Linked DNA regions of Homo sapiens: regions 1 and 2 are each reported to be linked to region 3. The links are microRNA targets in miRTarBase. Many come from high-throughput screens and were not tested one by one. Region 3 holds a microRNA gene; each other region holds the end of a gene's coding sequence.
The links. Region 3 holds the annotated microRNA hsa-miR-6765-3p (UCACCUGGCUGGCCCGCCCAG, at 1,286-1,306, shown strand). A microRNA usually pairs through its seed, bases 2 to 8, with sites in the 3' UTR of a target mRNA and lowers its output. Matches are read on the target gene's strand: a 7mer-m8 pairs with bases 2 to 8, a 7mer-A1 pairs with bases 2 to 7 and ends in A, and an 8mer does both.

Region 1 (4,000 bases), not on the chromosome of region 3:
CCAGAGGGCCAGGAGGGAGGAAGGGAGAGGAGGTGTTTTATTTTTTTGCTTTTATTTTTTATTTTGAGACAGAGTCTCTCTCTGTCACCCAGGTTGGAGTGCAGTGCTGTGATCTTGGCTCACTGCAACTTCTGCCTCCTGGGTTCAAGCAATTCTTATGCCTCAGCCTCAGCCTCCTGAGTAGCTGGGATTACAACACTATGCCCGGGTAATTTTTGTATTTTTAGTAGAGACGAGGTTTCGCCATGTTGCCCAGACTGGTCTCGAACTCCTGACCTCAAGTGATCCACCCGCCTTGGCCTCCCCACGTGCTGGGATTGCAGGCGTGAGCCACTGCGCCCGCCTTGATCTTTACACAAGGGGTTTAGGGTAGGTAGCCTTCTCTGAACCAGGAGAACAGCCTGTGCGAAGGCCCTGAGGCTGGACCGTGCCTGTTGGGTTTGAGGCCGTTGTAGCTGGAGCAAACAGAGAGAGGGGTAAAAAGGCAGGAGGCTACCAGGCAGGTTGTGCAGAGCCTTGTGGGCCACTGGGGAGGACTTTGGCTTTTGCCCTGAGAGCGGTGGGAAGTGACTGAATCCGGTACTCACCGTCTCCCTCTGGCGGCTCCTGGGGGAACATGCTTGGGGATCAGGCTGGGGGAGGCTGCCAGGCCCAGGAGGTGAGAAGTAGGTGGCCTCCAGCCGTGTTTCCTGAATGCTGGACTGATAGTTTCCGCTGTTTACCATTTGTTGGCAGAGACAGATGGTCAGTCTGGAGGATGACGTGGCGTGAACATCTGCCTGGAGTCCCGTCCCTGCCCAGAACCCTTCCTGAGACCTCGCCGGCCTTGTTTTATTCAAAGACAGAGAAGACCAAAGCATTGCCTGCCAGAGCTTTGTTTTATATATTTATTCATCTGGGAGGCAGAACAGGCTTCGGACAGTGCCCATGCAATGGCTTGGGTTGGGATTTTGGTTTCTTCCTTTCCTCGTGAAGGATAAGAGAAACAGGCCCGGGGGGACCAGGATGACACCTCCATTTCTCTCCAGGAAGTTTTGAGTTTCTCTCCACCGTGACACAATCCTCAAACATGGAAGATGAAAGGGGAGGGGATGTCAGGCCCAGAGAAGCAAGTGGCTTTCAACACACAACAGCAGATGGCACCAACGGGACCCCCTGGCCCTGCCTCATCCACCAATCTCTAAGCCAAACCCCTAAACTCAGGAGTCAACGTGTTTACCTCTTCTATGCAAGCCTTGCTAGACAGCCAGGTTAGCCTTTGCCCTGTCACCCCCGAATCATGACCCACCCAGTGTCTTTCGAGGTGGGTTTGTACCTTCCTTAAGCCAGGAAAGGGATTCATGGCGTCGGAAATGATCTGGCTGAATCCGTGGTGGCACCGAGACCAAACTCATTCACCAAATGATGCCACTTCCCAGAGGCAGAGCCTGAGTCACTGGTCACCCTTAATATTTATTAAGTGCCTGAGACACCCGGTTACCTTGGCCGTGAGGACACGTGGCCTGCACCCAGGTGTGGCTGTCAGGACACCAGCCTGGTGCCCATCCTCCCGACCCCTACCCACTTCCATTCCCGTGGTCTCCTTGCACTTTCTCAGTTCAGAGTTGTACACTGTGTACATTTGGCATTTGTGTTATTATTTTGCACTGTTTTCTGTCGTGTGTGTTGGGATGGGATCCCAGGCCAGGGAAAGCCCGTGTCAATGAATGCCGGGGACAGAGAGGGGCAGGTTGACCGGGACTTCAAAGCCGTGATCGTGAATATCGAGAACTGCCATTGTCGTCTTTATGTCCGCCCACCTAGTGCTTCCACTTCTATGCAAATGCCTCCAAGCCATTCACTTCCCCAATCTTGTCGTTGATGGGTATGTGTTTAAAACATGCACGGTGAGGCCGGGCGCAGTGGCTCACGCCTGTAATCCCAGCACTTTGGGAGGCCGAGGCGGGTGGATCATGAGGTCAGGAGATCGAGACCATCCTGGCTAACACGTGAAACCCCGTCTCTACTAAAAATACAAAAAATTAGCCGGGCGTGGTGGCGGGCACCTGTAGTCCCAGCTACTCGGGAGGCTGAGGCAGGAGAATGGTGTGAACCCGGGAAGCGGAGCTTGCAGTGAGCCGAGATTGCGCCACTGCAGTCCGCAGTCTGGCCTGGGCGACAGAGCGAGACTCCGTCTCAAAAAAAAAAAACAAAAAAAAACCATGCATGGTGCATCAGCAGCCCATGGCCTCTGGCCAGGCATGGCGAGGCTGAGGTGGGAGGATGGTTTGAGCTCAGGCATTTGAGGCTGTCGTGAGCTATGATTATGCCACTGCTTTCCAGCCTGGGCAACATAGTAAGACCCCATCTCTTAAAAAATGAATTTGGCCAGACACAGGTGCCTCACGCCTGTAATCCCAGCACTTTGGGAGGCTGAGCTGGATCACTTGAGTTCAGGAGTTGGAGACCAGGCCTGAGCAACAAAGCGAGATCCCATCTCTACAAAAACCAAAAAGTTAAAAATCAGCTGGGTACGGTGGCACGTGCCTGTGATCCCAGCTACTTGGGAGGCTGAGGCAGGAGGATCGCCTGAGCCCAGGAGGTGGAGGTTGCAGTGAGCCATGATCGAGCCACTGCACTCCAGCCTGGGCAACAGATGAAGACCCTATTTCAGAAATACAACTATAAAAAAATAAATAAATCCTCCAGTCTGGATCGTTTGACGGGACTTCAGGTTCTTTCTGAAATCGCCGTGTTACTGTTGCACTGATGTCCGGAGAGACAGTGACAGCCTCCGTCAGACTCCCGCGTGAAGATGTCACAAGGGATTGGCAATTGTCCCCAGGGACAAAACACTGTGTCCCCCCCAGTGCAGGGAACCGTGATAAGCCTTTCTGGTTTCGGAGCACGTAAATGCGTCCCTGTACAGATAGTGGGGATTTTTTGTTATGTTTGCACTTTGTATATTGGTTGAAACTGTTATCACTTATATATATATATATACACACATATATATAAAATCTATTTATTTTTGCAAACCCTGGTTGCTGTATTTGTTCAGTGACTATTCTCGGGGCCCTGTGTAGGGGGTTATTGCCTCTGAAATGCCTCTTCTTTATGTACAAAGATTATTTGCACGAACTGGACTGTGTGCAACGCTTTTTGGGAGAATGATGTCCCCGTTGTATGTATGAGTGGCTTCTGGGAGATGGGTGTCACTTTTTAAACCACTGTATAGAAGGTTTTTGTAGCCTGAATGTCTTACTGTGATCAATTAAATTTCTTAAATGAACCAATTTGTCTAAACTCGATGCACGTTCTTCTGTTCGCGCGCTTCTTTTTGTTTTTTTTTTTTTCCTGAGATGGAGCCTGGCTCTGTCACCCCTGGCTGGAGTGCAGTGGCATGATCTCGGCTTACTGCAAGCTCCGCCTCCCAGGTTCAAGCAATTCTCCTGCCTCAGCCTCCCTAGTAGCTAGGATTACAGGTGAGTGCCACCACGCCTGGCCAATTTTTTTTTTTTTTTTTTTTTTGAGACAGAGTCTCGCTCTGTCACCCAGGCTGGAGTGCAGTGGTGTGATCTCGGCTCACTGCAAGCTCTGCCTCCCAGGTTAATGCCATTCTCCTGTCTCAGCCTCCTGAGTAGCTGGGGCCACAGGCGCCTGCCACCACGCCCGGCTAATTTTTTTTTGTACTTCTTTTAGTACAGACGGGGTTTCACCATGTTAGCCAGGATGGTCTCGATCTCCTGACCTTGTGATCCACCTGCTTCGGCCTCCCAAAGTGCTGAGATTACAGGCGTGAGCCACCGCGGGTGGCCAACGCTAATTTTTTTGTTTTTTTAGATGGAGTCTTGCTCTGTCGCCCAGGCTGGAGTGCAGTGGCGTGATCTCTGCCTACTGCAAGCTCCGCCTCCCGGGTTCATGCCATTCTCCTGCCTCAGCCTCCTGAGTAACTGGGACTACAGGCACCCGCCACCACGCCCGGCTAATTTTTTGTATTTTTAGTAGAGACAGGGTTTCA
Region 2 (4,000 bases), not on the chromosome of region 3:
CTGAAGCCTTTCCAATTTCTGGGGATATCCAGATCCTCCTGGGTCGTGTGTTACACTACAGATACCATGGTGACCTTCTCTCCTTTCCTCCAGGCCTGCAGCTGGCCGCAGACATAGCCAGCCTCCAGAACCGCATTGACTGGGGTCGAAGCCAGCTCCGGGGACTCCAAGAGAAACTCAAGCAGCTGGAGCCTGGGGCTGCCTGACATGCGCGCAAAGAGGCAGGGCAGCGAGCACAGCTGTTCTCCGACATGGCTACGTGATCTCAGGCCTTCTTCCTTCACAATTAGCTCTTGCCCCTACCCCACGCCAGCTAATGCCCCTTCTGTGTCCCTGCTCTGCATGTTTCCATTTTCCTTAGGTGTGAAGTTTGAAGAGGCAAACAGTAATTTTGAAAGCCACTACTTTGAAACCATTCTAAGGCCTGAGTTCCCATAGGACACACTCACATAGGCAGGTACACGTTAGTCAACAATTGGAACTGCCTCTTGGATCACTCAGCTGTGCTTTCATGGCTGGATGATGGAACACTGTGCGAAGAGAGATGGGGGCCAGGAAGTAGCGCTTCATGCTTAGTACATCCTCCAAATTGTCTTTGCTGGAGGAGAAAACCGTACTCAGCCAAAAGATCAGGACAATATGACTTGAGTCCACAAGGACACAAACACCTGAGTAGCTGGGCAGCCCTTGGCAGGGTCTAAGCCAGGAAGTAAAAATGATCTGGCCTAGATATTTAAGGGAACTCTAGGAAGAGGCCTAGGTTTTTAAAATCCTGTCTCTTTGTCTTACCATAAGAGGCTGAGCCTCTCTTCATTTTTTTGAAGGGCCACTTGTGTTTTCTGTTCTGGGAACTTCATTCATTTTTCTACTGGGTTGTTGATCTTTGCAGTAATTTCTAGGAGCTGTTTATGTTTGGAGGTAATTGGTCCTTTGTCCATATATATGAGATGTAAGTCTTATTTTCCAGTTTATCTTTTTGCTTATTTTTTTTGACTTTTTATTGTAAAATAAAACATCAAACTGCACAGAACAGTTGAATAGCTTAATGAATAACTACAGTAAAAGCTATGGTAACCACTACCCAACTTTTGTGTTTTTTGATCATTATTTGTACGTACAGTTGAATGTATCCAGCTGTCACATGATTCTGAATTTGGGTTTGTAACTGATAAGGCAATCAGGGAATTCTCCAGCATTTTCAAGAACCTCTGTGGTTTCAGTTGAAATGTCCAGTGAGTCATGTCCAGCTTTTCCACCATCCTCCCACGTGCTGTATGTCGGTTAATGCTGCCCTTTTGTTTTGCTAACTCCCAGTGTAAACCTAATGTAATTTGGGGGTTTTCATTCTGTTTCGTGGACATTACTGTCAATACACCAGTACCACATTGTTTTACTTCTTGAACTTTAACATAATCCCTGTATGGCAGATTCGCGTTGGGTTGAGGGGTCGTTTATTGGCCCTGTTGACCTTGAGTTGCCAGGGAAAAGACTAATGGGGGAACTCAAATGGAACCCCTGTGACTGCAGGAAAAACGGGTATCTGCCCCCAAACCTCACCAAAGGTTGCCTTTTGTAACAAAGATCCTATCCACAAGGTTCCAGTTAGTGAGATTCTGAAGCCAAAGTAAGGAAAAAAATAAGTCAATTTTGCTGGGGCCACAAATTCTTCCAGGAGGAGGTGCGACCCCGTGGAGCACGCCCTTCGCTGCTGATTGTGGGCGGACACTGGGGTGGGCACGTGCCTCCCACTGCTGGCTTGGGGCTGGACTCACAGGTGGCCATCCTCCTATCAGGGCGAGGCCATGGGCTCTGCAAATAGGGTTGGATGAAGACAGCAAATCTTTAGCAAAGCATCCTTAACTTGCTGCCCTGACCTTCTGCCCTAACTCCAGCTCTTGGGGAGACCGCCAGGAAAGGGGATTCTGGCTTCTGTGGGGAAGTGGCTTGTCCCACCAGGGCTAAGTCGAGAGACTGGGTTCATGCAGCGAGTCTGGCACGGCTGCAGTCATACGAGTTTCTACAGGGACAGCAGGAGCTCAGTGCTGCGCAGTGGTAGTTGGGAGGCGCTGGCGGTGAAGCTGACGCATGTCACGTATACAGACACGGTGGCGTCACCTTTCAGCAGTTCCCATATGGTCTAGCGGTTAGGATTCCTGGTTTTCACCCAGGTGGCCCGGGTTCGACTCCCGGTATGGGAACAAAAGTGGCTTTTTTTTTTTTTTTTGCGGGTGTATATTTTTTTCTTTCAACTTGAAAATGTTCGCCAGAAGAACTTTGACTTTTCGCCACTAGAACGCTCCAGGCCAGATTGGGTATTTCCTCTTCACTTGAACTTGGAGAAACAGGCCCAGGGAGATCCGGGCCCCATCGCTGTGTGTTTTGATGGCAGTGACCATTTTCATCATGACATTAGCTAGTTGTTTTGACCATCAATAGCTTACTGAGTATATTAGATGCTATATACATCGCAGATGTGAATATTAGAAGTAGTGAAATGCCCGATAACATTGAAAATATTCAAAATGTGTTGCTGTGGAACCCCCAGCAGAAGGCAGATCCCCACTGGCCTCCATCACGCTCCAGCGCACTTGCTCAGGTTGGCAGGAGCCACCTCGGGTCCGTGAGCTGCCTCTGCAAGGCAGGGATAGGAAGTCCTAGGAAGTCTACTGGGAGCATAGCACTCTGGAAAAATTTACCTTTCTCTCTTGCTGCTGCTTTGTTTTGTCCAGTAGTCAGGGTTCCCGTTTTCTCACTGGGACAGTCCGGGCTTGACTCCACTCCCCCAGCAGAAAACCAACTTCAAACTTCAATGATGCCTTCGTGCCAGCACACAAACACATGTCCGGTGGAAAGGAGAACCCAGCTGGGTGAGGCGGCAGCTTCAGTCCCAGCTACTAAGGAGGCTGAGGCTGGAGGATCGCCTGAGCCCAGGAGGTTGAGGCTGCAGTGAGCCGAGGTCATGCCAGTACCCTCCAACCTGGGCTACAGAGTCAGACCTCTTAACTAAAAAAGACATTGTTTTTTGGCTTGCTCAATTAATCCAGGGAGATTGTATGTAAGGCTGAGGTCATGTCTTCAGCAATTACTGCCACACTCATTCATTCATTCATTCATACCTTTGTTTTTTATAATTATCACTAGTAAGCATACCAATGAAAATTTTTGTTCTGGCACATAAAGAGCTTCAAAATCATCACTTCCATCCTTACAACAAGAAAAAAGCTGAACGAACTGGAAAATCAACAACTCTTCGATTCCTCAGAAAATTGAGGTCACGTGGCAAACCACTCCCCTGAAAATGAGAAGGAAAGGCAAATACAGAGCTACAGCTTGCCAGGCACAGAAGCTGCTGCTGCAGCCAGCAACCTGTAGGAAAACTTAAAGGGTAACTGACTAACTGCTAGAGCCTGGGCATGTAAGCATAAGAGAGAAAAGATGCTGGGGACATAGCCTTAAGGGGCCCCCACAGTCTCATGGGTTTTAGCTCCAGGAATTCTATCTTGTTCTTGGGTGAAAATCAGAGAAAAATCTGCTGGAGCTTCTGGCAAGGGGAGGAAAGTGTAACCACTTTGAAATGCACACATAACGTCCTGTCCTCTTTAACAAAGGCTTAAAGTCAGAGCAACTACCAGAGCCTACCCAACCCAAGGGAAGGAAAATATCCACCTCCAGTCTGCTTTAGTCTTCCAACTCACATTAAAAAAAAGCTGAGAAGCACTTGTGAGTGGCACAGCCTAGGGACCACTGGTTCACAACAAGACTGGGCCCTGATCATGGGTTTATAGACCACTCCCTGCTGTCCCCACATCTTACTGCCACATCACTTAGGGCTCCTATATATTAACAAGGGATTGCAGCTGAAAGAACTGCAAGGCCCAGAATTTATGTAAGAAGCAGTCTCTAGGGAAACCCAAAGGCAACAGGGGATGCAAAAACAAGGACACTAGAGGAAATTTTAGCCTCTGACATTTACAGCTACAGCAAACAAGAAACACAGCCT
Region 3 (4,149 bases):
CCTGAGCATCCCACCCCTGCCCCCAGACCTGAACTACTGTGGCAGCCACCACCCCTGCACCAACGGAGGCACGTGCATCAACGCCGAGCCTGACCAGTACCGCTGCACCTGCCCTGACGGCTACTCGGGCAGGAACTGTGAGAAGGGTACGTGGGGGGCTGGCCACCCAAATTCTGGCCAGGCAGGGACTGGTTCCCTGGGGAGCCGGTCAGGCCCCATCCCTCTGGCGTCCTGTGTGGTGGGCCCCTGACCCCCAGCTTGGGAACCTGTGGGCTTGGGGAGGAGTGCTTGTGGAAAGCTGGGGGCCTGGCTGCCAGCTCTGCCCCCTCCCCGCGGTTCTACAGCTGAGCACGCCTGCACCTCCAACCCGTGTGCCAACGGGGGCTCTTGCCATGAGGTGCCGTCCGGCTTCGAATGCCACTGCCCATCGGGCTGGAGCGGGCCCACCTGTGCCCTTGGTGAGTGTCTGCACGTGAGTAGGGGACTCCTGCCTAGTATCAGTGGGGGTCTGGGAGTGGGGCAACTCGCTGGGGATGGGGTGCAGTGGTCAAGTCCACACGTGTGGCTGCGGCTGGCTTGGCGAGGACAAATGGCAGGAAGACCCAGGCTTGCAGCGCCACCTGCCCATGGGGACCTTATTCCCACGGCTCACACTGCCAGGGCCCCACCTTTCTCCACCCTCTGCAGACATCGATGAGTGTGCTTCGAACCCGTGTGCGGCCGGTGGCACCTGTGTGGACCAGGTGGACGGCTTTGAGTGCATCTGCCCCGAGCAGTGGGTGGGGGCCACCTGCCAGCTGGGTAAGGGCTCCGAGCGAGTGCATGGGAACGTGGGCCGCGCATGCGGGCTGCGGGGGCTGCTGGGGCTGCGGGGGCTGCTGGGGCTGCTGGGGCTGCTGGGCTGCGGGTGCCAGGTGCCCGTGCTGCAGGGGGCAGGCAGGGCCCGAGCCCCACGGCTCCCACCTTGTCTCTTTCACAGACGCCAATGAGTGTGAAGGGAAGCCATGCCTTAACGCTTTTTCTTGCAAAAACCTGATTGGCGGCTATTACTGTGATTGCATCCCGGGCTGGAAGGGCATCAACTGCCATATCAGTCAGTATGGGGGGTGGGCGCCGGCGGGTGGGCCGAGGCACATGGGACCCCGCCTCTGACCCTGCTCCTCTGCCCCCAGACGTCAACGACTGTCGCGGGCAGTGTCAGCATGGGGGCACCTGCAAGGTGAGGCGGGGCCAGGAGGGTGTGTGGCGTGGGTGCTGCGGGGCCGTCAGGGTGCCTGCGGGACGCTCACCTGGCTGGCCCGCCCAGGACCTGGTGAACGGGTACCAGTGTGTGTGCCCACGGGGCTTCGGAGGCCGGCATTGCGAGCTGGAACGAGACGAGTGTGCCAGCAGCCCCTGCCACAGCGGCGGCCTCTGCGAGGACCTGGCCGACGGCTTCCACTGCCACTGCCCCCAGGGCTTCTCCGGGCCTCTCTGTGAGGTGAGGTCTGCCTGGTCACCCTGCCCCACCTGCTGCTCTGGGAGCTGTAGGGCAGGCCTCGTCCCCTGACCATGGGGCCTGAGTGACCCAGGGGTGCTGCAGGGGAAGTTGTCCCCAAGGCGTCCCAGGCTCAGCTCTCCACTGGGTGCCAGGTGGGCAGGCGGGGCTGTCACAGGTCACCAGGCTTGGCCCCCTGTGGCCATTGCTTGTTGTGATGGGTTTCCTGGTGGCCTGGGCTAGGAGCCCCCGGGCTGCTGGCTGCCCAGGCCTATCTGTCCATCTGTGCACTCCCTCGGGACTGGAGGGCAGGGGGCTCTGGTGGGCAGAGCACATGGGGTAGGGTGGGTGCCTGATGGTGGAGAGGTATACACCTGTCATAGGTGAGTCCTGGGTCGGAGTGGGCATCTCTCTCAGGGCTGATGCTCTCGCCTCCCTCTGACCATCTGTTGGTACTGGACCCCCTCCCCCAACCTCCCCTTCCCCCCTGCCTCCAAAGTAACCTGCCTTCCCCCTTCCCCACCACCCCTACCACCCCCTTCCCCACCTCCCCCTTCCCCACCTCCCCCAACCCTGCCTCCCCCCACCCACCTCACTATCACCCCTCCCCTACCTCCCCCAACCCTGCCTCCCCCCACCCACCTCCCTACCACCCCCTTCCCCACCTCCCCCAACCCTGCCTCCCCCCACCCACCTCCCTACCACCCCCTTCCCCACCTCCCCCAACCCTGCCTCCCCATTACCTGCCTCCCTACCACCCCCTCCCCTTACTTCCCCTTTTTCCCTGCCTCCCCCCACCCACCTCCCTACCACCCTCGGCCGCCCACGATCCTGCCCTGGCCTTGGTGCAGAGGATGGGCCTCCTGTCCAGAGGGCTTCTTGGGGCCCAGGGCAGGGGTCTGACCTCAGGACCTGCAAGCATGGCAGTGGCTGGCCCTGGAAAAGACCCACAGTCTTGGCTCTGAGGGTGGCCAGGCAGTGTGTGAGGGGCTCAGGAGCTGTCCTTCCTGCCAGCAGCAGGGGCCAAGGCCACACTCCTCCCGAGGGACAGTGAGGAAGCTGGGCTGCAGTGGAGGTGGGGGTGGGGGCCCACAGGTATCTGCGTTCAGCTAAGGCCTGGGCAGTCTCAGGTGGGCAGGGGTCTTGGGCTCTGGCTGGCACTGTTAGGCCCAGGGCGGAGGGGCCTGGGGGTCCCCAGGGATCTACCTTCGTATGGACAGAGGCCTGGCCTGTGTTCCCGGCCTGGGCCTGGGCCTAGGCTCTCACAGGCACCCCCCACCCTGCAGGTGGATGTCGACCTTTGTGAGCCAAGCCCCTGCCGGAACGGCGCTCGCTGCTATAACCTGGAGGGTGACTATTACTGCGCCTGCCCTGATGACTTTGGTGGCAAGAACTGCTCCGTGCCCCGCGAGCCGTGCCCTGGCGGGGCCTGCAGAGGTGCTGGGTGCGGCATGGGGTGGTGGGGGAGGTGGTGGGGCAGGGGCGGGCCTGACTCCTGACTGTACTGCCTGCCATAGTGATCGATGGCTGCGGGTCAGACGCGGGGCCTGGGATGCCTGGCACAGCAGCCTCCGGCGTGTGTGGCCCCCATGGACGCTGCGTCAGCCAGCCAGGGGGCAACTTTTCCTGCATCTGTGACAGTGGCTTTACTGGCACCTACTGCCATGAGAGTGAGTGGCCACGAACGGCGGGCTGGTGGTGGGGCTGGGCTGGCCTGAGGCCCTGGCTCACCCCGCTCGCCTCTGCAGACATTGACGACTGCCTGGGCCAGCCCTGCCGCAATGGGGGCACATGCATCGATGAGGTGGACGCCTTCCGCTGCTTCTGCCCCAGCGGCTGGGAGGGCGAGCTCTGCGACACCAGTGAGTGTTCCAGCACCCGCCCACACGGCCTGTGCCTCCACCCCTGTGGGCCCCTTATCACCCTGAGATGGACCGCTGTCTGGGTGCGGCAGGCCCCGTACCCAGAAAGGCCTGGCCAGGGGGTGCTGCCACCATGGGGTGGAGTCCCAGGCTGCCCCCATGCCCGAGGCCAGCTCCCCCGGCCCGACGCTCCTCCCCCGCCCCTCTCTGTCCTCACCTGGCCCAGCTCCAGTGCTTCCTCCCCCGGGAAGCCCTCCCTGAGCGCCGGTGACCCCCCGCCCGCTGACCGGCGTCCTCGCCCCCAGATCCCAACGACTGCCTTCCCGATCCCTGCCACAGCCGCGGCCGCTGCTACGACCTGGTCAATGACTTCTACTGTGCGTGCGACGACGGCTGGAAGGGCAAGACCTGCCACTCACGTGAGTGTCCGCAGGCCCTGGCCGCCTGGGGCTGCCCCCAGGACCCTGGCCCTGGCGGTCTGGGGCCTGCCTGCTGAGCGGCCCATGTGCCAACAGGCGAGTTCCAGTGCGATGCCTACACCTGCAGCAACGGTGGCACCTGCTACGACAGCGGCGACACCTTCCGCTGCGCCTGCCCCCCCGGCTGGAAGGGCAGCACCTGCGCCGTCGGTGAGGAGCCCCCGCTGCCTCTGCGACCGCCGGGCATATGCCCTCCCAGGCACCGCTCCCTCGGGCGCGATGGGCCGAGGGGTCTTTTTTGAGGGCCACACCTGCCACCTGCCCCCTGCCCCCTGCCCCCGGGTCTGTCTGCCCTGTCTGGGTTGGGGGCGCGGTATGGAGACCCAGGGCC

Region 1: the mRNA of LDLR is a reported target of hsa-miR-6765-3p. Seed matches in the 3' UTR shown: 7mer-m8 at 1,509-1,515.
Region 2: the mRNA of VMA22 is a reported target of hsa-miR-6765-3p. The part of its 3' UTR that is shown has no 7-base or 8-base seed match.

The regions. Positions count from the first base shown.
Region 1 is chr19:11,130,546-11,134,545 of GRCh38, forward strand. It overlaps LDLR (low density lipoprotein receptor), which reads left to right. Exons shown (of 18, transcript NM_000527.5): 18 at 736-3,275. The coding sequence ends at 771. Among named protein-coding and RNA genes, the nearest start is that of MIR6886, 19 kb to the left of the region's middle.
Region 2 is chr2:130,335,326-130,339,325 of GRCh38, reverse strand. It overlaps VMA22 (vacuolar ATPase assembly factor VMA22), which reads left to right. Exons shown (of 5, transcript NM_032357.4): 5 at 94-1,393. The coding sequence ends at 206. It overlaps TRE-TTC1-1 (tRNA-Glu (anticodon TTC) 1-1), which reads left to right and starts at 2,127; the gene lies at 2,127-2,198. RefSeq lists an enhancer at 2,340-2,399.
Region 3 is chr14:105,147,935-105,152,083 of GRCh38, reverse strand. MIR6765 (microRNA 6765) reads left to right here and starts at 1,220; the gene lies at 1,220-1,306. It overlaps JAG2 (jagged canonical Notch ligand 2), which reads left to right. Exons shown (of 26, transcript NM_002226.5): 7 at 27-146; 8 at 345-458; 9 at 688-801; 10 at 980-1,093; 11 at 1,173-1,219; 12 at 1,307-1,480; 13 at 2,764-2,914; 14 at 2,995-3,147; 15 at 3,226-3,339; 16 at 3,645-3,758; 17 at 3,855-3,968.